Linked DNA regions of Homo sapiens. The protein of the gene in region 1 purifies or fractionates together with the protein of each later gene. This does not show direct contact. Each region holds a gene or a part of one and is shown in the gene's direction. Other genes may lie near its edges. The genes, in order: ZSCAN31, PNPT1, TRMT1L, PDCD11, PIP5K1A, BBX and NOL8.

The links.
Region 2: the proteins of ZSCAN31 (region 1) and PNPT1 purify together in Homo sapiens (affinity purification with mass spectrometry; one large-scale study listed by BioGRID and IntAct). This does not show direct contact.
Region 3: the proteins of ZSCAN31 (region 1) and TRMT1L purify together in Homo sapiens (affinity purification with mass spectrometry; 2 studies listed by BioGRID and IntAct, with this or other methods). This does not show direct contact.
Region 4: the proteins of ZSCAN31 (region 1) and PDCD11 purify together in Homo sapiens (affinity purification with mass spectrometry; one large-scale study listed by BioGRID and IntAct). This does not show direct contact.
Region 5: the proteins of ZSCAN31 (region 1) and PIP5K1A purify together in Homo sapiens (affinity purification with mass spectrometry; 2 studies listed by BioGRID and IntAct, with this or other methods). This does not show direct contact.
Region 6: the proteins of ZSCAN31 (region 1) and BBX purify together in Homo sapiens (affinity purification with mass spectrometry; 2 studies listed by BioGRID and IntAct, with this or other methods). This does not show direct contact.
Region 7: the proteins of ZSCAN31 (region 1) and NOL8 purify together in Homo sapiens (affinity purification with mass spectrometry; one large-scale study listed by BioGRID and IntAct). This does not show direct contact.

Annotation. Positions count from the first base shown.
Region 1 is NC_000006.12:28,326,149-28,329,648, reverse strand, and holds part of ZSCAN31 (zinc finger and SCAN domain-containing protein 31), read left to right. Parts: coding exon 1-346; intron 347-2,115; coding exon 2,116-2,266; intron 2,267-2,794; coding exon 2,795-3,483; 3' UTR 3,484-3,500.
Region 2 is NC_000002.12:55,683,845-55,687,344, reverse strand, and holds part of PNPT1 (polyribonucleotide nucleotidyltransferase 1, mitochondrial precursor), read left to right. Parts: intron 1-900; coding exon 901-975; intron 976-2,296; coding exon 2,297-2,402; intron 2,403-3,500. UniProt on the Homo sapiens protein: RNA-binding protein implicated in numerous RNA metabolic processes. Catalyzes the phosphorolysis of single-stranded polyribonucleotides processively in the 3'-to-5' direction. Mitochondrial intermembrane factor with RNA-processing exoribonulease activity.
Region 3 is NC_000001.11:185,154,154-185,158,218, reverse strand, and holds the start of TRMT1L (tRNA (guanine(27)-N(2))-dimethyltransferase), read left to right. Parts: upstream 1-1,265; 5' UTR 1,266-1,506; coding exon 1,507-1,741; intron 1,742-1,746; exon of another isoform or gene 1,747-3,684; intron 3,685-4,065. UniProt on the Homo sapiens protein: Specifically dimethylates a single guanine residue at position 27 of tRNA(Tyr) using S-adenosyl-L-methionine as donor of the methyl groups. Dimethylation at position 27 of tRNA(Tyr) is required for efficient translation of tyrosine codons.
Region 4 is NC_000010.11:103,395,196-103,399,425, forward strand, and holds the start of PDCD11 (protein RRP5 homolog), read left to right. Parts: upstream 1-1,430; 5' UTR 1,431-1,535; intron 1,536-3,220; 5' UTR 3,221-3,231; coding exon 3,232-3,333; intron 3,334-4,230. UniProt on the Homo sapiens protein: Essential for the generation of mature 18S rRNA, specifically necessary for cleavages at sites A0, 1 and 2 of the 47S precursor. Directly interacts with U3 snoRNA. Involved in the biogenesis of rRNA.
Region 5 is NC_000001.11:151,243,552-151,246,791, forward strand, and holds part of PIP5K1A (phosphatidylinositol 4-phosphate 5-kinase type-1 alpha), read left to right. Parts: intron 1-3,240. UniProt on the Homo sapiens protein: Catalyzes the phosphorylation of phosphatidylinositol 4-phosphate (PtdIns(4)P/PI4P) to form phosphatidylinositol 4,5-bisphosphate (PtdIns(4,5)P2/PIP2), a lipid second messenger that regulates several cellular processes such as signal transduction, vesicle trafficking, actin cytoskeleton dynamics, cell adhesion, and cell motility.
Region 6 is NC_000003.12:107,808,901-107,811,839, forward strand, and holds the end of BBX (HMG box transcription factor BBX), read left to right. Parts: 3' UTR 1-2,439; downstream 2,440-2,939. UniProt on the Homo sapiens protein: Transcription factor that is necessary for cell cycle progression from G1 to S phase.
Region 7 is NC_000009.12:92,318,851-92,322,350, reverse strand, and holds part of NOL8 (nucleolar protein 8), read left to right. Parts: intron 1-604; coding exon 605-683; intron 684-2,213; exon of another isoform or gene 2,214-2,408; intron 2,409-2,994; coding exon 2,995-3,130; intron 3,131-3,500. UniProt on the Homo sapiens protein: Plays an essential role in the survival of diffuse-type gastric cancer cells. Acts as a nucleolar anchoring protein for DDX47. May be involved in regulation of gene expression at the post-transcriptional level or in ribosome biogenesis in cancer cells.

The DNA of each region.
Region 1 (3,500 bases):
TGTGAAAGTGGAGGAAGACCCTATCTGGGACCAAGAAACCCACCTTCGAGGGAACAACTTTTCTGGCCAAGAAGCCTCCCGACAACTTTTTAGGCAGTTTTGTTACCAAGAGACTCCTGGTCCCCGAGAAGCTCTGAGCCGGCTCCGAGAACTCTGTCATCAGTGGCTAAGGCCAGAAATCCACACCAAAGAGCAAATCTTGGAGCTGCTGGTGCTGGAGCAATTCCTGACTATCCTGCCTGAGGAGCTCCAGGCCTGGGTGCGGGAGCACCATCCGGAGAGTGGGGAGGAGGCTGTGGCTGTAGTTGAAGATCTGGAACAAGAGCTTAGTGAGCCAGGGAACCAGGTGAGAGGAGAAAGATGGACTTCTAGACATTAAATACTAAATGAAAGGTGGGGTTTGGTGACACAGGTTGGTTGGCTATAGCTATATGTATTAGTTCTCTGTTGTGTAACAAATTACCCCTAAACCTTAATGGCCAAGACTATGGTCATCTGATGACAAGACTCAGGTGGGCGGATCCACTTCCAAGATGGTTTACTGGTACAATTGTTGGTAGGGGGCCTCAGCTACTCACTGGCTGTTGGCAGGAGGTCTTAGTTCTTTACCATGTTGGTACTCTTCATGGGGCTGCTTGAGTGCCCTCACAACATGTCAGGTGGCTTCCTCCAGAGAGGAGAAGGAGAGAAAGAGAGAGAAAGGAAAAAGCCACAGTGCTTTTTTGTTGCGGGAAGTCAGGGACCCCAAATGGAGGGACCAGCTGAAGCCATAGCAGAAGAATGTAGATTGTGAAGATTTCATGGACATTTATTAGTTCCCCAAATTAATACTTTTGTAATTTCTTATGCCTGTCTTTACTGCAGTCTCTAAACATAAATTGTAAAGATTTCATGGACACTTATCACTTCCCCAATCAATACCCTTGTGATTTCCTATGCCTGTCTTTACTTTAATCTCTTAATCCTGTCAGCTGAGGAGGATGTATATTGCCTCAGGACCCTGTAATAATTGCATTAACTGTACAAATTGTACAGCGTGTGTGTTTGAGCAATATGAAATGTGGGCACCTTGAAAAAAGAACAGGATAACAGCAATTGTTCAGGGAATAAGAGAGATAACCTTAAATTCTGACTGCCAGTTAGCTGGGCGGAACAGAGCCATATTTCTCTTCTTTCAAAAGCAAATAGGAGAAATATCACTGAATTATTTTTCTCAGCAAGGAACATCCCTGAGAAAGAGAATGTGCGCCTGGGGGTAGGTCTCTGAACTGGCCCCCCTGGGCGTAGCCATCTCTTATGGTTGAGACTGCTGGGGTGAAATAGACCCCAGTCTCCCATAGCACTCCCAGGCTTATTAGGAAGAGGAAATTCCCGCCTAATAAATTTTGGTCAGACCGGTTGATCTCAAAAACCCTGTCTCCTGATAAGATGTTATCAATGACAGTGGTGCCCGAAACTTCATTAGCAATTTTAATTTCGCCTTGGTCCTGTGGTCCTGTGATCTCACCCTGCCTCCACTTGCCTTGTGATATTCTATTACCTTGTAAAGTACTTGATGTCTGTGTCCCACACCTATTCGCACACTTCCTCCCCTTTTGAAAATCCCTAATAAAAACTTGCTGGTTTTTGTGGCTTGTGGGGCATCACGGAACCTACTGACATGTGATGTCTTCCCTGGACACCCAGCTTTAAAATTTCTCTCTTTTGTACTCTGTCCCTTTATTTCTCAAGCTGGCTGACGCTTAAGGAAAATAGAAAAGAACCTACATGAATATCAGGACAGATTCTCTGATACTTTTTACGACTCAGAAGTTATATACCATCTCGTCTGCCTCACTTTCTATTCAGTAGAGTTGAGCTATCAAGTACAGCCCACATTCAGGGGGTTGGGGATGGGCAGTTAGATTCTACCTGGTGGATTTATTTTAAACCACCACACTTGATTGGGCCACTCTTCCCTGTTTTGCTTTTGGGTAATGAATTAAACTCTGGTCCTTCCACTGTGACATCTCTCTAGAAAATGTTTCATATAGTTCCATGTGATATCTTTCATTTAGTATTAGCTTGTACTCCTATAATCCCCCTCTTTAACCAAATATGCCTACCTGCCTTCAGGCTCCAGACCATGAACATGGACATTCTGAAGTGCTCTTGGAGGATGTGGAACATCTGAAGGTCAAGCAGGAACCAACAGACATACAGCTTCAGCCTATGGTGACACAGCTCAGATATGAATCTTTTTGCCTCCACCAATTTCAAGAACAAGGTAAGGATTTTGACAGGTCCCTTCAGGAGATCTCTGGTGGGTCTATATAGGGCGATAGTTAAGACTGTGGACTCTGGGGCTAAATTGCCTGGGTTGGAATTTAAACGCTGCATTTAATAGTTCTGTGACAATGGACAAGTCAGGTAACCTCCCTGTGCCTTCAGTTTATGCATATTTGAAGTGGGGATAATCATAGCACTTCAGTCACAGAGTCATTTGAGATTTAAAAAGTTAACATATGTAAAACACTTAGAACAGTGCCTGCCTTGTAATGAATATAATATAGTGCCTGCTTATGTACATCCTCACTGGGAGCCTCTGGGTGCTCCCTCCAGCCATTTTAGCAGTGCTGATGACCCCTTACTCTACTAGCCTAAACATCCCTGTTTAACCCAACCTGCTCCTTAACTGACAGTTCTTCATTCCTAGAACATGTCTGTTTGATATCGATCTTTCTATTTCCATCCTATGATTGTATTCTTTCATAAAGGAAAGAGATTACATTGTTTGGTCCATTTATTATTCCAGATGGTGAAAGTATACCTGAGAACCAGGAGTTGGCATCAAAGCAAGAAATCTTAAAAGAAATGGAACATTTGGGGGATAGCAAACTCCAAAGAGATGTATCTTTGGATTCTAAGTACAGAGAAACTTGTAAACGAGACAGCAAGGCAGAAAAGCAGCAGGCACATTCCACTGGAGAGAGACGCCACAGGTGCAATGAATGTGGGAAAAGCTTCACTAAGAGTTCAGTACTCATTGAGCACCAGAGAATCCACACTGGGGAGAAGCCATATGAATGTGAAGAATGTGGGAAGGCCTTCAGCCGGAGGTCAAGCCTGAATGAACATCGGCGGAGCCACACTGGAGAGAAACCCTATCAATGTAAGGAGTGTGGGAAAGCCTTCAGTGCCAGCAATGGCCTCACTCGACACAGAAGAATCCACACAGGGGAAAAACCATATGAATGCAAAGTGTGTGGGAAGGCTTTCCTCCTCAGCTCATGCCTTGTTCAGCATCAGAGGATACACACTGGAGAGAAGCGCTATCAGTGTCGTGAGTGTGGCAAAGCCTTCATTCAGAATGCAGGGCTTTTCCAGCATCTCCGAGTCCACACTGGTGAGAAACCCTATCAGTGCAGTCAGTGCAGTAAACTCTTTAGTAAGCGGACACTTCTTAAGAAACATCAGAAAATCCACACTGGAGAGAGACCATAAGGGTGATGAGTTTGGGA
Region 2 (3,500 bases), on another chromosome or scaffold:
CCTCAGCCTCCCGAGTAGCTGGGACTACAGGCGTGCACCACCACACCCAGCTAATTTTTGTATTTTTAGTAGAGACGGGGTTTCACCATGTTGGCCAGGATGGTCTCGATCTCTTTTTTTTTTTTTTTTTTGAGATGGAGTCTCACTCTGTTGCCCAGGCTGGAGTGCAGCGGCGCGATCTCGGTTCACTGCAACCTCCGCCTCCCAGGTTCACGCCATTCTCCTGCCTCAGCCTCCTTAGTAGCTGGGACCACAGGCACCTGCCACCACGCCCAGCTAATTTTTTGTATTTTTAGTAGAGTCGAGGTTTCACCGTGTTAGCCAGGATGGTGTTGATCTCCTGACCTCGTGATCCGCCTGCCTCAGCCTCCCAAAGTGCTGGGATTACAGACGTGAGCCACCGCGCCTGGCCTGGTCTCAATCTCTTGACCTCGTGATCCACCTGCCTTGCCCCCGCAAAGTGCTGCAATTACAAGTGTGAGCGACCGTGCCCAGCCGTATTAAGTGACGTTTAACATCCTTTCCAAACTTGGGCTTCTGTTTTATGCGTTAATAAATTCTGTTGTGCTTTTCTAGAGAAAGTGATTTTGGTATTTTCTTCTATAGTAATAATTGGGGAATTTTTCCTTATGTATAGCCACATAAGAAGTAGAGAATACTATTCAATTCATTGAATATGACTAAATTACCTGTTAATCTTTCCTTATTTTGATTCCATAGCTTTTGAAAAGCTCAGAGATCAAGATTGGACTACTTGTGAATATTTTTTATTTCATAATCGTGTCGTAGAATTAGATATCTTTTCTTGAGTTTAATTGGAGTAAGGATTTATTCAGTTGCTACTTAGATGCTAATATCTGATTTCAAAGGAACTTACCAGCGTTGTTCTTTATGTTTAAGTCAGGTGACACTGCAGTAATGGTCACAGCGGTCAGTAAAACAAAACCTTCCCCTTCCCAGTTTATGCCTTTGGTGGTAAGTATTTGCTGATTTATCTGAACTGTAATATGGTCTGAGTAAAGTGTAGAATGTATAATATTTTTGTCCAGTGTCTAGTGAGTGGAAAATACAAACTTGCACAACAAAGAATTTTTCCTAGTTTTTTGATACTGATTCATTAAAAGAGTATAAACTGCTTCATAAACAAATACTAGGATTAAGCATACTTTAGAATTTGGAACGTCCAGGTGCGTAAGTTGACAAGAAGATTGGAAGTGCATGAGTACTTTGACATTGAATAAGCAATGAATTCATTGCCCTCATAGTTTCCCTTCAGTATGACTCTGCAAGTACAGTCAGCCCTCCATGTCCTTGGGTTTTGCATCCATGGATTCAACCAACCATGGATCGAAAATATTGGGGGAAAAATTGCATCTGTACTGAATATGTACAGACTTTTTTTCTTGTCATTCCCTACGCAATACGGTATAAAAACTATTTATGTAGAATTTACATTGTATTAAGGATTATATGTAATCTAGAGATGATTTAAAGTATATGAGAGGATATACGTAAGTTATAAACAAATACTATGGTGTTTTACATCAAGGATTTGAGCATCCATGGATTTTGATATCTGCAAGAGGTCCTAGAACCAATCCCCCAGGGATACCAAGAGACAACTGTGTATATTTAGTAATGAGCTCATGAGAATTTTATAGCTCCCTTCTATTATGAAAAGGGGTGTACAATTATATTTAACAGAGTTGATACCAAAAAAAAGCAATGTTTGACTTGATCAGAATGAGCATCTGTGGCAAATAGTGAGTCTTCTTCCACTTTTACTGTTGAGTAGAAGACTTTTTTTTTTTTAAGAGACAGGGTCTTGCTCTGTCACCCAGGCTAGAGTTGTTCAGTGGTGTGATCATAGTTCACTGCAGCCTCAAACTCCTGGGCTTAAGCAATCCTCCCACCTCAGCCTTCTGAGTAGCTAGGACTATGGGCACAGGCCATTGTGCCCAACTAATTTTTTTTTTGTTGGGGGTAGAGACAAGGTCTTTCTGTGTTACCCAGGCAGTTCTAAAACCCTGGCCTCAAGTGGTCCTCCTGCTTTGGCCTCCCAAAGTGCTGGGATTACAGGCGTGAGCCACTGCACCTGAACGTTTTTTAAAATCACTTTGCAGAAACATTTCTATCAACTTTCCTCTCCCCAAAAGATACAAAATGCTAAGTAAATAACATTTTCTACTCTGAGTCTAGACTGTGTTGTTAGCAACCTCAGGAGAATTAGCATTCATACAGTATAGTTTGTTTCTGCAAAAAGAATTATATGAACTTTTTTTTATTGCTGCTTCAGGTTGACTACAGACAAAAAGCTGCTGCAGCAGGTAGAATTCCCACAAACTATCTGAGAAGAGAGATTGGTACTTCTGATAAAGAAATTCTAACAAGTCGAATAATAGGTAAGATATTAACATAGAGGCGTTCATCTTCTCTGGTATGCCTATGTTAGCATCTCTTCTCTTGCATCTGTGTTCTACAATAAGTCTTAAGTTTTCCTTCATAGCATTAACACCACCTAAGATTATTCACTCCTTCTCTTCCCTCACTCAAATGTGGGCACTGTGAAAGAAAAAACTTTTATTTCTTCAGGGTTGAATCCCTAGTACCTGTTATACTGCTTAGCACAGAATAGGCATTCAATAAATATTTGTTGACTAAATGAGTAAATCTCTATTGAGCATATGAATTTTTTGGCCCATGCCTCTACTTTGTTGAATCTATTCCTAGTACATTTTTTCATGTTCAGAATAGTAATTCCTAAACATTATGTTCATCAGCTACTGAAATATGTCCATAATCTTTCAAATCTTTAACATCCCTACATATTGTGGGATCATATGTAATTTATAGCTCTTCTACCCAGAAATTGCTTTTTTTTGAGACAGAGTCTTGCTCTGTCACCCAGGCTGGAGTGCAGTGGCACGATCTCGGCTCACTGCAACCTCTACCTCCCGGGTTCAAGTGATTGGGATTACAGGTGCCCACCACCATGCCTGGCTGATTTTTGTATTTTTAGTCAAGATGGGGTTTCTCCATTTTGGTCAGGCTGGTCTTGAACTCCTGACCTCGTGATCCACCCGCCTCAGCCTCCCAAGTGCTGGGATTGCAGGCGTGAACCACTGTGCTCGGCCAGAAATTGCTATTTTATGTATATTTATATACAGTCTTCAGACACAAAGTAGCAAGGAAGCATTTTCTTTTGGTCTGCTATTGGTCTTAAGTCTCTTTGCTCTGCTTATATATGTAACTGTTGCCTGTGGAACCAGAATGAAAAATTGCTCCCCAATCTTTATTGTTAATGTGCTTCTTCTGTGTTTGTTTTTTGTTGTTAGGGCATGGTATGTAATAATGGAAGCACTGACATTTATCTGTGTCCCTCTTAGTAAATCAGTCCAAGGGGATTTTTCTTGAAAACATATTGAATGGCTATCTATATTAGTTCAAACGTTTTGAACTGTAAAGCAACTCTGTCAGTACGGTTTAATGTGTTTTTTTTT
Region 3 (4,065 bases), on another chromosome or scaffold:
TAGTGCTTCAAAGTGCCAAATAATCATGCTATCTCTTCCCCGGGGTTCTGAAACAAGTAGGAAACAAATAGACCAAGAAGATTGGCGTTTATCAACTTAATTAACTAAGAAAAGCTAACTGGAAGCGCGCGTCTTGTTCTTGAGACTAAATTGGGCTTCCCTCTCCTGCCCTGATGCCTAGAAGGTTCGGACCAAGCCCAAGCAGGGCAGCCAGAAAGTTCACGTTTTTCTCCTTTCTGTCCCAGTGGATTTATCGCGGGGGGACAGAAGAAAGAAACAAGAAAGGCTCGAATGTCAAGTAGGCACTAAGAGTGAAGGGGAGAGAAGTACGGGGGACAGGGGACTCGCTAGCATATGTTTTGGGGATCTGAAACGCATCAAAATTAAATGCCCCGAAGCTCTACCCACTCAGAGCTCTGGTTATTAAAAGCCTGAAAACAAAGCAAAATAGAGCAAAACAACTAATTTCTATCCACTGGCCACACCGCAGAACTGCTGATACTGGCAACATGAAGACTAAAGCAAAAATAAAAACAAAGGAAAAGAGTGTTCGGGTCACGGTGTAGGTGAGGGTGCGAAATGAAGAACAGACCCTAATTCCAAGTCAGCTGGATGGACAGGCAAGCTCGTCAGCTGCTAGTAAACCGCCGCGGGCCCGCGGGCTCCGCACGAACCGACCAGACCCCAACACCGGGCAAGGGGCAGCCCCGGAGGCAAGCCGGGCCAGAACCACACCCTCCACGGAGCTGGCTCGTCCCCGGACCCGCCCACAGAGTCGCCCCGCCCAGGTCCGTGTGACTCCTGAGTCCCCAGTCCGGCCGGCCGCCCGCCCGCCAGTATACTTGGGGCGGGGGACGAGGGGGAACCTGCCCAGCAAAACGTCAACGCACCCCGCAGTTCCTACCTTACCAGCGCCGGCGGCAGTGGCAACTCCGGAGCCCCAAGCCAAAGGAGAGGGACCCCCGCCTCCCAACACACACACACACCCCGCCCCACCAACTGTATGCCTGCTGGGAAACGTAGTTCTGCGCCCGCATCCGCACTACCTACTCACCGCCCCACAGCGCTCGCTTAGATTTGCATTTACTTCCTCCGAGGCTTGAACTCCGGCCCCGCCCCCAGACTGCGCAGTGTATCCTGGGTGCTGTAGTCTTTGTTCGGTTTGGTGGTTGGCCGGTGGGCCGGAGACGCACCGTAGAAACCGAACCCTCTTACCCAATTGGACGCCGTCCCCAGTACGCTTCTGCGCAGTTTGTGGTGGCGTCGTAACGCCTCGGGGAAAGGGAAGCGGACGGGCATCTGGAATCGCTGCCTCTGGCTTTCTGTTTTCTACTAACAGGATTTGGTCACTGGTTCTTCATCTTTTGTCTGTTGCACGCATCCCGCCCTCCCCACTTGCTTCCCCACTCCTTGGATCCAGCCCTGTGGGCATTCACGTCAGTTCTCTGACCCCGCCGTGAGCCCCGCTCCGGGTCCCCGGGCGGGCTTGGCACGGAGGCGGTAACTATGGAGAATATGGCGGAGGAGGAGCTGCTGCCCCTGGAGAAGGAGGAGGTGGAGGTGGCCCAGGTCCAGGTCCCGACCCCGGCCCGGGACTCGGCTGGGGTCCCAGCTCCGGCCCCGGATTCGGCTCTGGACTCGGCTCCGACTCCGGCCTCGGCTCCAGCCCCAGCCCCTGCCCTGGCCCAGGCTCCGGCCCTGTCCCCGTCCCTAGCCTCTGCCCCTGAGGAGGCTAAAAGCAGTAAGTGCAGAAGGCCCAGATCTTTCTGCTGCAGAAGAGAGAAAGTGCGCCTTGCTGGGAAGTAGGGGAGGCCCTTCACCGGGATGGTTTTTATGGGGCAAGGCAGGTTTAGGAAAATGGTGGGGAGGAAAGAGGGGCCCGTGTAGCGGCTAAAGCAGGGTTACAGAATGGGAGACGGCATCTTCATAAGCCTCGAGGATGTCACGGTGAGGGATATGCGGAGAGCAGGAATGCTGCAGATAGAAGGAAATAATGAGGTTAAGGGCTTTTTCTTAAAAGGGAGTCTTTTTAAGGTACAAAAATAGGAAGTTACACATAATTTGGTAGTTTCCCGCAGTCCAGTCTGCCATGGTTAACTAAGTTCTTTCAAATGTGACATAGTAACCGAGGCAACCTGTTTACGGTAGTAGATCCTAGCTGCCAACATTTCTAAACCATTACTGTCAACTAGCTTTTCTGCTTCGACAGCCACAAGGAGATGAGTTTTTCTCATTTCAGTTTTCTTTTCCCCCGCTAGCAGCTTGCCTCCGAAAAGATTTTGAGGCTGAGTAGTAGTTTAGGAAAGAGTCGACTAAATTTACGGATGTTTTCCCCCATACATAAATACCAATTGAGTTTTGTACTCCATTCCATCAGAAATAGACTGTTGAGAATTAATGGCCCATATTATTGTGCTTCTGAATGTGCCTGCATGTTTTCTAAGTGGTGGTTTATTGGACCATATAGGAATTTAAAAGACTGATGAGTAACACTTTCTTAAGGATCTTCTAACATTTTAAAATGTAAGGTCTAAGAAAGACATAATTTAAGTTCTTTTAACATTTAGTTTGTGGTCATAAGTTGACCTTTATGTGCTTTCTGAATTGGAACTTAAAATAATCTTTAATTCATTATTTTTTCTACTTCTAGGCCAGTTTTGAGTTTAATATTTATAAAAGGTTAGATAGTTATAGATAGGATTATTTTGCAGTTTTGAAACAACATACAAATTGTTATAGATTTCAGAGTAGGGCTAATCACAGGAAAGACAAAAGTCAGAATGCTTCAGGTAAGCCCCTTCTCATTATATAAGATCAGAGCTTGTAGGTACAAAATAAGGCCAGTTGTTTCTTCAACTACAGTGGGTAGGGATCGGGGAGGCATGGGGAGCTGAGAGGGTTCCACCCTCCTAAGTAGCCTCCTACCTCACTTCGAAGTTGTATTTGTTTATATTAGTCAGAAGTGGTTCAGCAGCTTTGGGAAATGCATGCATTCTCTACCTCCTCACCATCAAAAATATGTTAAACATAGAAAAGACTTATCTATATATTCCAAAATTTACAAATATGTAATTTGAAGAAGGTATACTATATGGGAAACTGAAAATGCATTAGTAGGACAAATATGTAATGATTGAGAAGTCTGAAATGCATTAGAACTAATACATATATTAATCACATTTTAAACATTATTTTTAGTTGATCTAGTTAGTCCTTTGAAATCAGTCATAACTAGGTAAGATGAAGATAGCCTATCTGAAATAGAATTGAAAATTGAGGAAAAAGTAATAGAATAAGTTGTAAAAGACCCTCCTAGCATCTTGGAGACATCTAATTTAACAAGAAGTTTGCCTGTTGACTTCTGGATTAATAGTGTGTTACAAAAAGCAGATTGAGTATTTTGCATACAGATTGTCTGATACGCACTATCTTAAACCAGAAGGTGATTTCAGAGATGTTTATAGGCATATCATGCATTTTTAAACAGATCTTCAAGAGTTTCTTCAGTAGTAGACCACAGGATTTTTAGTTTTCTAACTTAACCAAGCTCCTTTCTCTTATTTTGTGCTATTTAATAGAATAATTTCAATAGGCACGTCTTTATTGATTGCTGTTTATCTTGTTTTACATACACAGATCTTTGAACTCTGGAACCAAAAGCCTTTATGGTTACAAATTAGATAGGTTAGTTTGTACACATGGATTCATTTCTGGAATATTGCTGTCTGACCTAGCAAAAGATTTTTATGAAACATGAAGAAGTTTTACCTGTTTATAGAAATTATATCTCATTATAACTCATTTGACCAGTATCTGATATAGGAAATTAACCAATATTGTTTGTTGCTTCTTTAAAAATGAGGTGAATAACCAGGCACCAGCCTATACTCCCAGCTACTCAGGAGGCTGAGGCAGGAGGATTGCTTGAGCCCAGGAGTTTGAGGCTGCAGTGAGCTATGATTGAGCCACTACATTCCATGGAGGCTGGGTGACAGAGCAAGACCCATCTTTAAATAATAATAATATGAAAAATTACCTTTTAATAAATTTGAGCAGGAGTGTCTG
Region 4 (4,230 bases), on another chromosome or scaffold:
TACTTTAGGGCAAAGATAAAGGAACCCTTGTGTTTACAGTGCCCTTTGTAAGACTCCTAGTTGTGATTTAATGTTGTTAAACGGTGGTATGTTTTAATTAAGTTGCTAACTGCCCTTCTTGAGACAAGGTCTCGCTCTGTCGTCCAGGCTGGAGTGCAGTGGCGCGATCTCAGCTCACTGCAATCTCCGCTTCCCGGGGTCAAGCGGTTCTCCTGCCTCAGCCTCCCGAGTAGCTGGAACTACAGGCGCGCGCCACCACGCCCGGCTAATTTTTGTATTGTTGGTAGGGACGGGGTTTCACCATACTACTCAGGCTGGTCTCGAACTCTGGACCTCAGGTGATCTACCCGCCTCGGCCTCCCAAAGTGCTGGGATTACAGGCGTGAGCCACCGCGCCCGGCCACTAACTGCTCTTAAATGTAACTAATCCTTCCGTGCCTCTCTCCACCTGTGAGATGGGCACTTTATTAAAGGTCCAAAGTGACCAGTAGCTCTTGTTACTTTCTCTGTTCCTCGATATTGCTATTTTCCTTTCTAACTTAACACCTACCTGGAATGGTGAGATCACGAGGTAAGGAAGGCAAAGATGAGTGAGAACCACTCAGGTAACAGAAGCAGCCTCTTGCATTCACGGAGTTTACAGCTCTCTGTTCTGGTTACCTCCTAGGAAAGGCCTTCCCACTGATCGTCTATAGACTGAAATCTAACCCTTTTACAGCGGGCCTGGCGAACTGTAGGGGCCGGGCCACATTCACTCGCTTTGAAAAAGGCTGCAGCGCACCTAAAGGAGGCCCGGCTGGCCAGCTTCCTAAAGCACAGCTCGGTGGGAACAAACAGCTATGGACATACAGAAGAAAAGAGGTTAATTCGGCCGGTGATGGGGATCAGAAGCCCTAGTCCTCGTCCAATATTACGTCACTGGGTGACCTCGAGGGACGCTTCGCGGAGGGCCTCATTTTTCTCCACTGGCGAATGCAATCTAAGGGTCTTCGGAAACTGTGGGAGCCCTTGGGCGCACCTATCCGCCTCACCTCGAGGCTTCTCACCCGCTGGCCGCCCCCTTGCGCCCCTCGTTTTTTCTAGCTCCTTTCCCATTCCCCACCGTTTCTCTCCTCCAAAGCTAAGAACTCGAGTTGCTCCTCGGCCAGAAACGGCGGGCGGTCCTGCAACGTGCAGGCGCCAGGTCCAAGCCCGGACTCCCCTCTTCACCCACCTGCCAAAGCCGCAAATTCCGCAGCTGGTGTCCTTCAACGAATGTAACCACCTCTCGGCCCGGCCGGAAGAAGCCACCTCCCCCGCACGCGTTTAGCCGGCCCCCGCGATTCGGCCTAATGCGACGATTGGCTATGGCTCCAAATCCCGCCCTTCCGATTCCTGTCTCTAGGTCACCTCCGCAACACAGCAACGGAAGTAGGGTGTTGAGCCCGCCCACACTTCCGGAAGAATTGCACTGGACTGTGGGTATCCTGGTCTCCGCGTGTGTGAGTACCGCGGCGCGAGGTTAGTGGTAGCTGGGTGCAGACGCCGTGGCGCTGGTGAGTAAAGGCAGAGGCGAAAAAGGAGGAAACCTCATGGCTGTCAGGTCTGTCCCAGGCCTGGTTCCCTGCCAGGCACACGCTAGATGAGTGTGGTTCGGCCACCTTAGCCCCGCTTCGAAGCCGGCTCTGTTGTAGCAGCCCCTGTAACCCCAGGCTTTGTGTTCGGAAAGTAGCCTAAGTATCTTCTGTGCCCCTGGATCGCCTTACTTTTCAGAGCCTCAGTTTCCCCTTGCTTGAAAGGAAATTAAGGGTGAAATTATCAGCAAACTAGACCCCCCAAACTTTCCTGTTTCTATGAATCATATACCCATCCCTGATTCCATATCCTTGGCCCCACCCGGTCATCACTTCTTTAGTCTAAAGCCCTTGTAGAGTCTTATTACCAAGTGTCTGTCAGAACTAACCTCTCCTGTCTTCTGTTTTCACTTATACCCAGTTCTGGTTCTCATGGTTTCTCTGCTGTACTGCATTTGAATCCTTTTTTTTTTTTTTTTTTTCTGTCACTGAGATAACAGGAAACAGTGCATTTGAATCCTTCTACCGAATTTACTTGCCTTCAATACTGTCTCTCTTCATGTCCAATCTATAGCCTGCAGTATATTTTTCTTGCTTACTGTTCTCTCGCTTTCCCTGCTTAAGTCTCTGACTTGCCAAAGCAAACTACCCATATCTAATTCAAGGTCTTCCACAAAAAAGCCCAACTTCTCCTTTAATTTTTTTGAGACAGAGTCTCACTTTGTCTCCCAGGTTGGAGTGCGGCGGCATGATCTCAGCTCACTGCAACCTCCGCCTCCCGGCCTCAAGCAATTCTCACGCTTCAGCCTGCCTAGTAGCTGGGACTAGGCGCAGGCCACCACGCCCGGCTAATTTTTGCGTTTTTGGTAGAGACGGGGTTTCGCCATGTTGACTATGCTGGTCTCGAACTCCTGACCTCAGATGATCCACGCGCCTCGGGCTCCCGAAGTGCTGGCATTACAGGTGTGAGCCATGGTGCCCGGCCTTCTTTAAAATTTAACTTCAATTTTTATGCTTTAATCTCCCAGTGGTCTAGTTGAATAATTCCTCAGAGACAACAGCAAGCCTTTGAGCAGTTGTTTGATAGGGAAATTGCTGGTGTTTATTGAAATAATAGGCTTTTCCCATCCATGTCTTTTCTCACATTCCCTTTCTACCTGTCAAGCTTCTGTTCATCTTTTACCCTTAAGCTAAAAAAGATCTTCTTTATGAAGCTTGCCTCCTTTACTTATCCCTTCCTACATTGCCTTATCCCTTCCTACATCTTTGTGATCATTTATAATCTGATTTGCATTTTAAGTTACTTGCATAATTGTTTTATCTTCCAAAAAGTGTGCATGTTCTTTGAAGGCAGAGGATTATATATTCATCTGTAGAGCTACAGTGTATCTCTGACTTAACTGTAGCTTCTTAGTGAGTATGTGCTACATTGAATCTATAACTTCTTTTTCTGGAAGAAGGTGGGTGGACTTGTGGTTTTGAAGCAGAGACCTTTGGAAAGATGAAGTATGGATTATTCCGGGCCTGACATCTAAACCATCTATGTTGTAGTCCTGAATGTTGTCTAGCATATTGCTGGAACGTTCTGTCTCTTGCCCGTTGATAACACCTTTCTGAAATCTGCTACCAAGACAACATGTCACCATTATCCTTTGCATTGTTTTTAGGAGACCCAAACATGGCAAACCTGGAAGAAAGCTTCCCCCGAGGAGGTACAAGAAAGATCCACAAACCAGAGAAAGCTTTCCAGCAGTCAGTTGAACAAGACAACTTATTTGATGTAAGTAGTATGCTTGTTTGGTGACACTCACTGGAAACTTTTACTGTAGTGTCTTGTGAAAAATGAGCCTTATTTGAGAATGTGTTATTTTTCCAGATTTTTTTTGCATTGAAGTCTACTTCTATAAATTTAACTCATTTAGAGAGGCCATACCACCACAAGGCTGTATCTTTTGAAGCTTGGCATTTAGTATTAAAGTACTGTTATTAGCTGGGCGTAGTGGCTCATGCCTGTAATCCCAGCAGTTTGGGAAGCCGAGGCAGGCGGATCACTTGAGGCTAGGAATTCAAGAGCAGCCTGGCCAACATGGTGAAACCCCGTCTATACTAATACCAAAACTAGCTGGGCATGGTAGTATACCTGTAGTCCTAGCTACTTGGGAGGCTGAGGCATGAGAATTGCTTGAACCAAGAAGGTGGAGGTTGCACTGACCCAATATTGTGCCACTGCTCTCCTGCCTGGGCGACAGAGTGAGACTCTGTCTCAAAAAACACACAAACAAAATAAATAAAGTGCTGTTCCTTGTTCTTAGACACTCTTTGCCATGTGCCATGTTGATTAAGGATGGAGAGGAAGCAGTTTTTTTTTTTTTTTTTTTTTTGAGACGAAGTCTTACTCTGTTGCCCATGCTGAAGTGCAGTGGCGTGAGTAGCTGGGATTACAGGTGCCTGCTACCATACCTGACTAATTTTTGTATTTTTGTTAGAGATGGGGTTTCACCATGTTGGCCAGGCTGGTCTGAAACTCCTGACCTCAGATGATCTGCTCACCTTGACCTCCCAAAGTGCTGGGATGGCAGGTGTGAGCCACTGCACCCAGCTGATGTTTTTGTTATTTTTGTTGTTGTTTTTTCAAGAGATGGGGAGAGATGATGTTTCACTCTGTTACTCAGGCTGG
Region 5 (3,240 bases), on another chromosome or scaffold:
AGTTTCTTTTATCAGGCCTCAAAGCAGAAGAATAATTCTCCGTGGTTCTTGGCTCTACCCTCTAGACTCTTGGTTTTGTCTTCTGAGTCTTCCTTTTTCATCAAAGCTAGAGTGTGTTTTTACCTGAGTTCTTTTCTCAGGCTGCTTCTTTCCAGTAGAATTTTAGGGGAACTAGTGGTCTCTATTTTGTACTGTTTCTGTCCTTTTTGATCCAAGATGGCAGTGTTTCTACTGATACAGAAGATTTTGTGGGCCTCCTGTGATTCTCCTTGGGATTTACTCCATTAGACAAAAGCCACACTCATAAATATCTTCTTTATGAGACCTAAGCTTCTTACAGACTCTGTTTTTCGGTTGAAAGGATCTGTGAAACATAATCTTCTGAACAGCCTTTTGTATGACTGAATAGCACAATCAGCCCTCCGTATCCACAGGTTCCACATCCCAGATTCAACCAACTGTGGACTGAAAATACTTGAGAGCCTGGTGTGGTGGCTCATGCCTGTAATCCCACCACTTTGGGAGGCTGAGGTGGGAGGATTGCTTGAGGCAGTTTGAGACCAGCCTGGTCAATATAACGAGACCCCATCCCTTTGAAAAAAAAAAAGAAAGAAACGAAAAAATACTGAAAAAAAAAAAAAAAGTCGTGAAAATGTTATGTTGTTGCTGATATGTACTGTACAGTTAGGCCTGTACTTAACATGTACAGACTTTTCTTGTCATTATTCCCTGAACAATATAGTATAACAACTATTTACATAGCATTTACATTGTATTAGTTATCATAAATAATCTAGGAATGATTTAAAGTATATGGAGGGCCAGGCGTGATGGCTCACGCCTGTAATCCCAACACTTGTGAGAGGTAGAGGCGGCCAGATTACTTGAGCCTAGGAGTTTAAGATCAGCCTGAGCAACATGGCGAAACCCCATCTCTACCAAAAATACAAAAAAATTAGCCAGGCGTGGTGGTATGTTCCTGTAGTCCAAGTTACTCAGGAGGCTGAGGCAGGAGGATCGCTCGAACCCCGGAGGCAGTGGTTGCAGTGAGCCGAAATCGCGCCACTGGACTCTAGCCTGGGTGACAGAGCGAGACCCTGTCTCAAAAGAAAAATAAATAAAAATAAAGTATATGGAGGATGTGTGTGAGTTATATGCAAATACCATAGCATTGTATATAAGGGACTTGTGCATTGTGGATTTTGATATTCAAGGAGGGGTCCTGGAACCAGTCCCCCACAGATATTGAGGGATGACTATACTCTGAACCAATACCTTTTGTTTTTCTGAGGTCTTAATAAGATGTTTCACAGTCATATGTTTGCCTTCATCTTTAGACCACATTTTCTTGGCAGTGCTCTGGAGCTTATCCTTGCTCAAAAGCCTTTTTTTTTTTTTTTTTGGTAGAGATGTCTCATTGTGTTAACCAGGCTGGTCTTAAACAATCCTCCTCCCTCTGCCTCCTGAAGTGAGCCACCGTATGTGGCCTGCCATTTCTTAATTTTAGCATCGTTTGCTCTCTGGAGAGGCTTAGAATTTTCAAAACTTATCAAGTTCTGGCATTTTTGTTTAATAGTCCTTCCCATAATTTCTTTATCTTCTCCTATATTTTATTATAAGCATCAAGAGAAAACCAGGTGGCACCTTCAGGACTTTGCTTGGAAATCTCCGTAGCTAGATTGTCCAATTCATTAGGCACATATTCTACTTCTCACATAATCACAAATCACATTGTTGCTAAACTTTGTGCTGCTGCCTTACTAGGATCTCCTTTCCTTCAAGTTCCAATAAAATTTTTCTCACTTTAAGCCCTCACTGGTAACCCCCTTTAAGTCCAAAATTCTATAAACAGCATATTCAGGACACTACCTTTTCACTAAAATGCTCCTCCAAGCCACCCCCAATGTTTTGTTTTGTTTTGATTTTGTTTTTCGAGATGGAGTCTCACTCTGTTGCCCAGGCTGGAGTACAGTGGCACGATCTTGGTTCACTGCAGTCTCTGCCAACAGGGTCTCCCTCTGTCACCCAGGCTAGAATGTAGTGGCACTATCTTGGTTCATTGCAACTTCCGCCTCCCAGGTTCAAGCGATTCTCCTACCTCAGCCTCCCGAGGAGCTGGGATTACAAGCGTGCACCATCATGCCTGGCTAATTTTTGTATTTTTGGTAGAGACGTGGTTTTGCCATGTTGCTGAGGCTGGTCTTGAACTCCTGGCTTCAGATGATCTGCCTGCCTCAGGCTCCCAAAGTGCTGGGATTATAGGCATGAGCCACTGCACCAGGCCACCACCCCCAAATTTTAGATTTTTGTTATAGCAGCACCTCAATTCCAGGTACAAAAGTCTGTATTATCTATTATTGTGTAACAAATTACCCCCAAACTTAGCTGTTGAAAACAAACATTTGTTATCTCAGTCTGGGTGTGGTGGCTCACACCTATAATCCTGGCACTTTGGGAGGCCGAGGAGGGCGGATCACCTGAGGCCAGAAGTTCGAGACCAGCCTGGCCAACATGATGAAACCCCATCTGTACTAAAAATAGAAAAATTAGCCAGGTGTGGTGATTTGTGCCTATAATCCCAGGTACTCAGGAGGCCGAGGCGAGAGAATTGCTTGAACCCGGGAGGCAGAGGTTGCAGTGAGCCAAGATAGTGCCACTGCACTTCAGCCTGGGCGACAGAGCGAGATCTGTCTCAAAAAGAAAACAAAAATTTGTTATCCCAGTTTCTGTACCTTAGCTGGATGCCTTTGGCTCGGGTTCTCTCGAGATTACAGTCAAGCTATTAGTCCAAAAGCTTATCTGAGGGAAGATCAGCTTCTCAGCTCACTTATATGGTTGTTGGCAGTATTCGGTTCCTTGTCACATCGCCCTATCCATAGCCAGCTCATAGCATAGGAGCTGGCTTTCCTCAGAGCAGGCAAGCAGGGGCTAGAGCATGAGTCCAAGAAGAAGATACAGTATTTTTGTAATCTAATCTCAGAATGGACATTCCATCTCCTGTGCTGCATTCTGTTCATGAGAAGAGAATCACTAAATGCAGCCCACACTTGAGAGAGAATTACACAATGGCATGGATCTCAGGAGGCAGGGATTATTGGGGGCAATCTTAGAGGGTACCTACGACACCTGGAGATTGAAACAGAAGAGGGCAGGGTACTGGGAAATATTTTATAGTATTCAAGAAGCTAAATATGGTTAATTAAAACAGTGTGCTTCTAAATCTAGTAGCTTCTCAGCCTC
Region 6 (2,939 bases), on another chromosome or scaffold:
TTCCCACGTTATCATTGTGATTCTACTTCCTGCCACTAAAATTGCTGGAGAAACAAAATAATGATGGAACACTATGAACAAAAAGGAGCATCTGAACTGGTCTGGTTATTTAGAATCCAATGTGTTCAAATCCTTTTGTTTTCTTATTAAGTCAGATGCTACTGTAAGTCAGATAAAATTTTGTTTGCACTCTGCAGTCTTTGGCTCAATGTATGGAAATGTTTGCACCTATGTAAAGTCACAAGCTAATTACAAATTGCTACAGAACAGGAGTAAGCTGAAAACTGAATGCCATGTTTTGTTTATAAGGTGGGGAGGGGAGGGAAAATACCAAAAAACTCTGTTCCAAGTTTGGCATTTGACATTAATGTGAAGCAGTGGGACCATGCTGCCTGCTAAACTACTGTATGAATCGTAAATGTTCTGAAGACGAGCAGCTGGAGGCTGGAGGATGGCATTCCATACAGCAAAGGAGAAGCACCCACCACTTCATCTGGGAAAAGGAAGGAAATTGCAGGAGGCCTGGAGCCATCATTTGTAAAGGGGATGTTGCGGGGTGTGATGCTGTTGAGGAGATTCACCTTCAATTGCACTGCTCCACAGAGCCCTCATATAAGGCCAATCCTAATGGGCTACCTCGGCTTTAAAAGTTAATTTCAGTAAGTCCTGTTTCAAAAGTTTGTCTTTTTTTGCTTCTACCTTCAGTGCCACTATTTTCCACTGCAGTGTTTTGACTTCACAAACTGCCTCCTCCAGAGAGAACAATGTATTGCTGAAAATGGGCAGTAGAAGCAAATGCTGTTGTTACATTTGACCTATAAAGTATTCAGAGTGACTGCTAGGTAGAAATTAAAACTTAGCTTTCCCAAATAGCTCCTTATTTTGCACCTTATAAAAAGTATACTAATTGTTAATTAGATGTTGCTTTTGTTTATACAAGCATTCCCAAAGAACTAGATTTGGATTTTGTTTTGAGTTTTTGGATTTTTAAAAATTATCTTATTTAGATTGACTAACAGCATACTTACAATTTTAAAAGAAGCTGTTGTTCAGTTCATCTTACCAGATGTGTCTGGCGAAGTATTCAGGGTTTGATGGACTGCTTTACTTTCGTTTGGAAGTGATAGCTAAGTTTATTATACTCTATATTAAACAACTTTGTTCATTTCACTGAGGACCTTATCTTCCTTATATTTCAGAACAAAGAAGCAACAAGCGTGAATAAAAAGACAAATGTATTTGACTCCCTCATAATCCCCATCTGTATGTGCTACCCTTCCTTCAAATATATAAATGTGCATCTTTTTTTTAAAAAAAAAAAAAAAAAAGGTTCCTCTTCTGGCCAAATTTGATCTATGGTGGTATGATTCATACTGTTAAATTGAGAGAGGAAACCTTGTGGTTAAAAATTATATGGCTGCTGTTTTCTTTTTGCAGTCAGTGGTCAAAACTGATCATGTGCTTAAATCGATTTTTATGCACAGAACTAGTTATTGTGAACATTACTGCTCCCTCCAAAGATTTCCTGATAACTTGGGCCAGAGGTGGTTACTGAGTAACAAGGATCTAATTCAATGCCTCAAAACTCTTCCACCCACAATGCAAATCTTACCTCACAAGCTCTAACCTAAATCACAGAGACATGCATGTTTCATGCATTAACACTGATTTCGCTCTGTGGCCCACCAGAGGGGTGGGCTCATGTCCCCTGACTCCTCACATGAGTGCCTCAGCTCTAAGAGCCGTGGAACGGGGGGTAGGGAAGGTTTGCGATCTGGAGCTCAGCAACTGGCTCAGCAACGTTTTCTCCATTTCATTAGCACTAAACAAGTCTCTTGCTCTCAGGAATTTGTCAGAAAAAAGAATAAAATCACCTGAGACTCCACATACCAGATTATAAACTCTTCTCGTAGGTTTGAATTGCTTACTCACATGTCATAAATTAACCACAGCTTCATTTGACCACCAGGTCTAAAGTCTGTTGACAGTTTCAGCATGACTGAATCGCTCATTTTTTTTTTTTGCTTTCAGAAATTGGCTTGGTTCTCTTTAGAGTTGGTGTAAACATGCCATGTAATAAATGATTTCCACTTAATGGTACAACAGAATTATTGCTTTCTTAGATGTATGTGTAGTAAAAGTCAATATACACATTTATATAATTTCTTTCTTCAAAATCTTATACCTAATTTGATATTTCTAAAAATTGCACATGTAAGTCATGTGTATAACATGCTAAAGTACTTTAACTGTGATCTTAAAACTGAATAAAAATATTTAATAAAACTTTGAAATATTTTAAAGATATTATTCAAATATATTTCTTTATGTTCACACTACTGGCCGTAGAGTATGTGCCTTTAATGTACCATTTTCACTAAAAACAGTAGGAAAAATACTAATAAAAGTAAGATATTTCAACTATTTTAGAACATCGAATGATGTGTCCCCCTAAACTGTGTTTGCCTGTGATTTGCCATTGTCTGGACAGCCTTGGTTGCTTTTCCCAAAAGTGTAGAGTGATGATCAGCCCAATAGAAGAAGAGGATATGCTTCAGTACGCCACTTGGGTGAACGCTTCTGGGGTGCGCTTCTGGGACTAGTGATCAGAACACACCATCTTTCCCTGAACTGGGACAAAACTGTGGAAGCGATTTCATTAAGAGTGTTACCTAAGTATAAACTCGCACCTCAGATTTGGTGAATACAATGTTCCTAAGTTGTTTTTTTTAATCCTTTGGAAACTACACGCATGCATGCACACAGTATTAATTATCAACAAATAGACTTTGTATTCAGACAGTTCTTCTACCCATGTACCATTGGGTTTTTTTTAACCTCCCTAATTCAGATTTATTGATAGTGATGATACCTCCTCATACCATTGCTGTGGTGAAGAAAAGAGAGTATATATGAAAATATTGTCATAGGGCCTGTAG
Region 7 (3,500 bases), on another chromosome or scaffold:
AGTATCTACCACCTACAAAATTCTGTTAATGGTATTATTAAGGAAGCTGACGGCAGATGCTCAGAGAAATCAATTACTACGGCATAGTAATTCAAACAGTTCAGTCACTCATAGTTAATTCATCTGCAAGTTCTACAGTGATAATTAGTATGAGGTGATAAATAAAATTAAGGTGCTGTAGGATTCCAGAGTGTCCTCTGATTCACCTGAAAAGATGATTGTTTTATAGTTACAGGAAATATATGTTTTATAGTTACAGGAAATAACAATAAAATATACATTAAATATCAGTTATTCAGAGGTTCCTGACATTTGTTTACAAACAAATTGCAAATAAATTTTGCTTTACTTTTTACACATTTTGCCTCATTCCAATCTAGTAACACTGTGAGATAGGGAGTGTAAAGACTCTTTTGGTAAGTTGTCAAGATGAAACAAGAGCCTAGGCTCCCTCTCTCCAGGTCTCATTTCTTTTCTTCCACTTCCCCTGGATCTCTTTGTGATAAACAAGCCTGCTTTTCTTGATACTAAATAATTAGAAAAAGCACAAGCTGAAATATATTTTTACATTGCCATGTACTTGTAATAATTCTTTACTTTATAGGTATGTCTGTTTTAAATAAAACAAAATGGAAAGGTGGAACATTACAAATTCAACTAGCAAAAGAAAGCTTTCTGCACAGGTAAGTTTTGCTCCACATGGATTTAAGCCCTATTTTTTTTATATTGTAAGTGGTTTTATATATTATTTCAAATTATCAAGTAATATAGTATTATATTCTTAACAAATTCAAACATATAAGTAGAGCTGAAATCCCTTTCAACTCTGAATCCCCTTCACCCCAGACGAACAAAAAGGATAATTTCATGCATTTACGTATGTATGTAATAAGCTATAAAAGTATATATGTACTTATTTTCTCTGTTAATGAGCTATAAAAGCATATATGTACTTATTTTCTCTTTGTTAACACACCCTTTTGTGGCAATGTAGATCTTCTCCCTTTATAACAATTGTTAGTAGTATTTCAGAAAATGGTTATACCACAATGTAGTGGTCCCTTCCCACTGATGACTGTTTCTACTTTTTCATGGTCATAGATGATCCTGGAGCACATATCCTATGTATATGCAGGTGTTTCTCTCAGTTTATATCAGAAAATGGAGTTGCTGAATCTTAGCATTGTCTGCATTTAAATTTTAGTAGACTACTAAATTGCATATGTTGATTTTGACTGTTAATGCTAGTGTCATACCAAAATATAAAGGAAATAGGAGATCACTGTATGACAGGCATAAGAGTGATTATGCAAGTGATTTAAGAGCAAGACAATGTATTATAAAAACCATTAGAGCTTTTAAAATCCTAAAGGTATTTTCAGGAAGAAAAGGTATTGTTGGGGAGTTTTCAAAATAGGAAACAATTTAAGAATATACAGATAGAGGCCGGGCACGGTGGCTCACGCCTGTAATCCCAGCACTTTGGGAGGCCGAGGCGGGTGGATCACCTGAGGTCAGGAGTTCAAGACCAGCCTGGCTAAAGTGGTGAAACCCCGTCTCTACTAAAAATACAAAAATTAGCTGGTTGTGGTCATGGGCTCCTGTAATCCCAGCTACTTGGGAGGCTGAGGCAGGAGAATCACTTGAACCTGGGAGGCGGAGGTTGCAGTGAGCCTACATTGTGCCATTGCACTCCAGCCTGGGCAACAGGAGTGAAACTCTTGTCTCAAACAAAAAAAAAGGAAAAAAAAAAAAGAATATACAGGTAGAATGACCAGGAGAGTTGATAAGCTTGTTCCAGACCAATGAAATGTAACAAGAACAGATATATTCTAAAACGAGTGGCAAGCAACCTACTTTGAGGCATGTTTTGGGGGACTGGCCTTATGAAAAAGGTGAGAATTTGATTTTGTTCTTCAGCTGAAGCCTAGGACTGTGAACAGGGTGGTTATATACCTTTCATTCCAGCAGCAGTTGCCAGCCTACTGTGTACAGGCACTAGAGCCCCATGCTGAGCAGGTTGAGCACACAGTGCTGCTGCTTGGAGTATCTGCGTGGATATGCCTGAGAAGCATGGGTCTGATGGTTATTCTGGGACATAAAGGAGACAGACCAGAGGCAAAGAGGCCAGTGAGGACTGCTCTGTGCAGTTGTCCAGGCCTGAAGAAGGTGGCGGTGATTTGAATCAGAAGAGGTGGCATTCTCTTCATTAGGAGGATATGGATAATCAAGACCTAACAAATTGGGCTCCGAAAGATACCTTCGTCATGGGGAAGAGTGAATGGAGAGAAGATAATATAAAATGCCAAACGTATATAAATTGAAAGGGGAAAATTGAGAGAACTTGCGATCCATGGTCTTGGTCTTCCATAAAGGGGAACTGGGACATCCACTGGAGCAGAGCACAGGTATAAGCGTGCATGTCAGGGATTTGGGAGACTGACTGTAGTGTAGTGGATGGGCTAAGAAAAGAACCCTCATGCTCTGGTGGGACAGCCCTGACAGCACAGCTTGTCACTGCTGTCCAACCGTATAGCTCAGTTGCTGGTGGTAAGGGACTGGTCAATAAACTACAGTAGATTGATGGAAAGGCATGTTGTACAGCAATCATAGTGATGTTTTCAAAGAACGTATAAGTTGATAAATGAAGTGTACCCAACTGTGCTTATGATATTTGGATTACATTATAAAATATGTATATTTACATACAGAACAAAGATGAAGTTAAGTAAACAAAATATTAACAAGATGAGGGATAAGGAATATGTTTTGTTTTCTTAACGGTTCTGTCTTCCAGTATTCTATAATAAAAACATTGTATGTTCAGATAAGTAGGTAAGCTATTATGCTACTAAGAAAGCATTTTTGTTTTATTTTGGTTTTTAATACTACAAAGCTGTTTATAGTGCTCATTTAGGCACACCTAAAGTGAAATAACCATTTTACGTGGCTGATTATTTTGACTCTTTTATTTGTATTTTCTTTTTGATTCAGATTGGCCCAAGAGAGAGAAGCAGCAAAAGCTAAGAAAGAAGAATCAACAACAGGTAACGCCAACTTGTTAGAAAAGACAGGAGGAGTGGATTTCCATATGAAAGCTGTGCCAGGGACAGAAGTGCCAGGGCATAAGGTGAGTCTCCTCTGTAGCCTGAGCCAATTACATGGTCTTGGAAACTGATGCCTGAGATCACGTGATTGTGGGTGTCATGTCTAAAACCAGTTACTCTTTTCCCCTTTCTTGGAGGCAATTAACATAGATAGGACTTTATGATTTTCAAGGTGCATTTACAACTCTTAGGTAAGCATAGTTCTCCATCATTTTACAGAGAAAGAAATCAAAACTCAAGCAGAGGTGGACTTTCAAGGGACATAGGTAGCAAGGAATACAGGCAGGTCCCAAGTTTGCCTGTTCAAATTAGCAGCCAGTGTTTTTTGTAAACCATCTTACACGGTTTACTTGGGATTGATAGCTGCTCCAAATCTTCCTTTTTTTTTCTTTC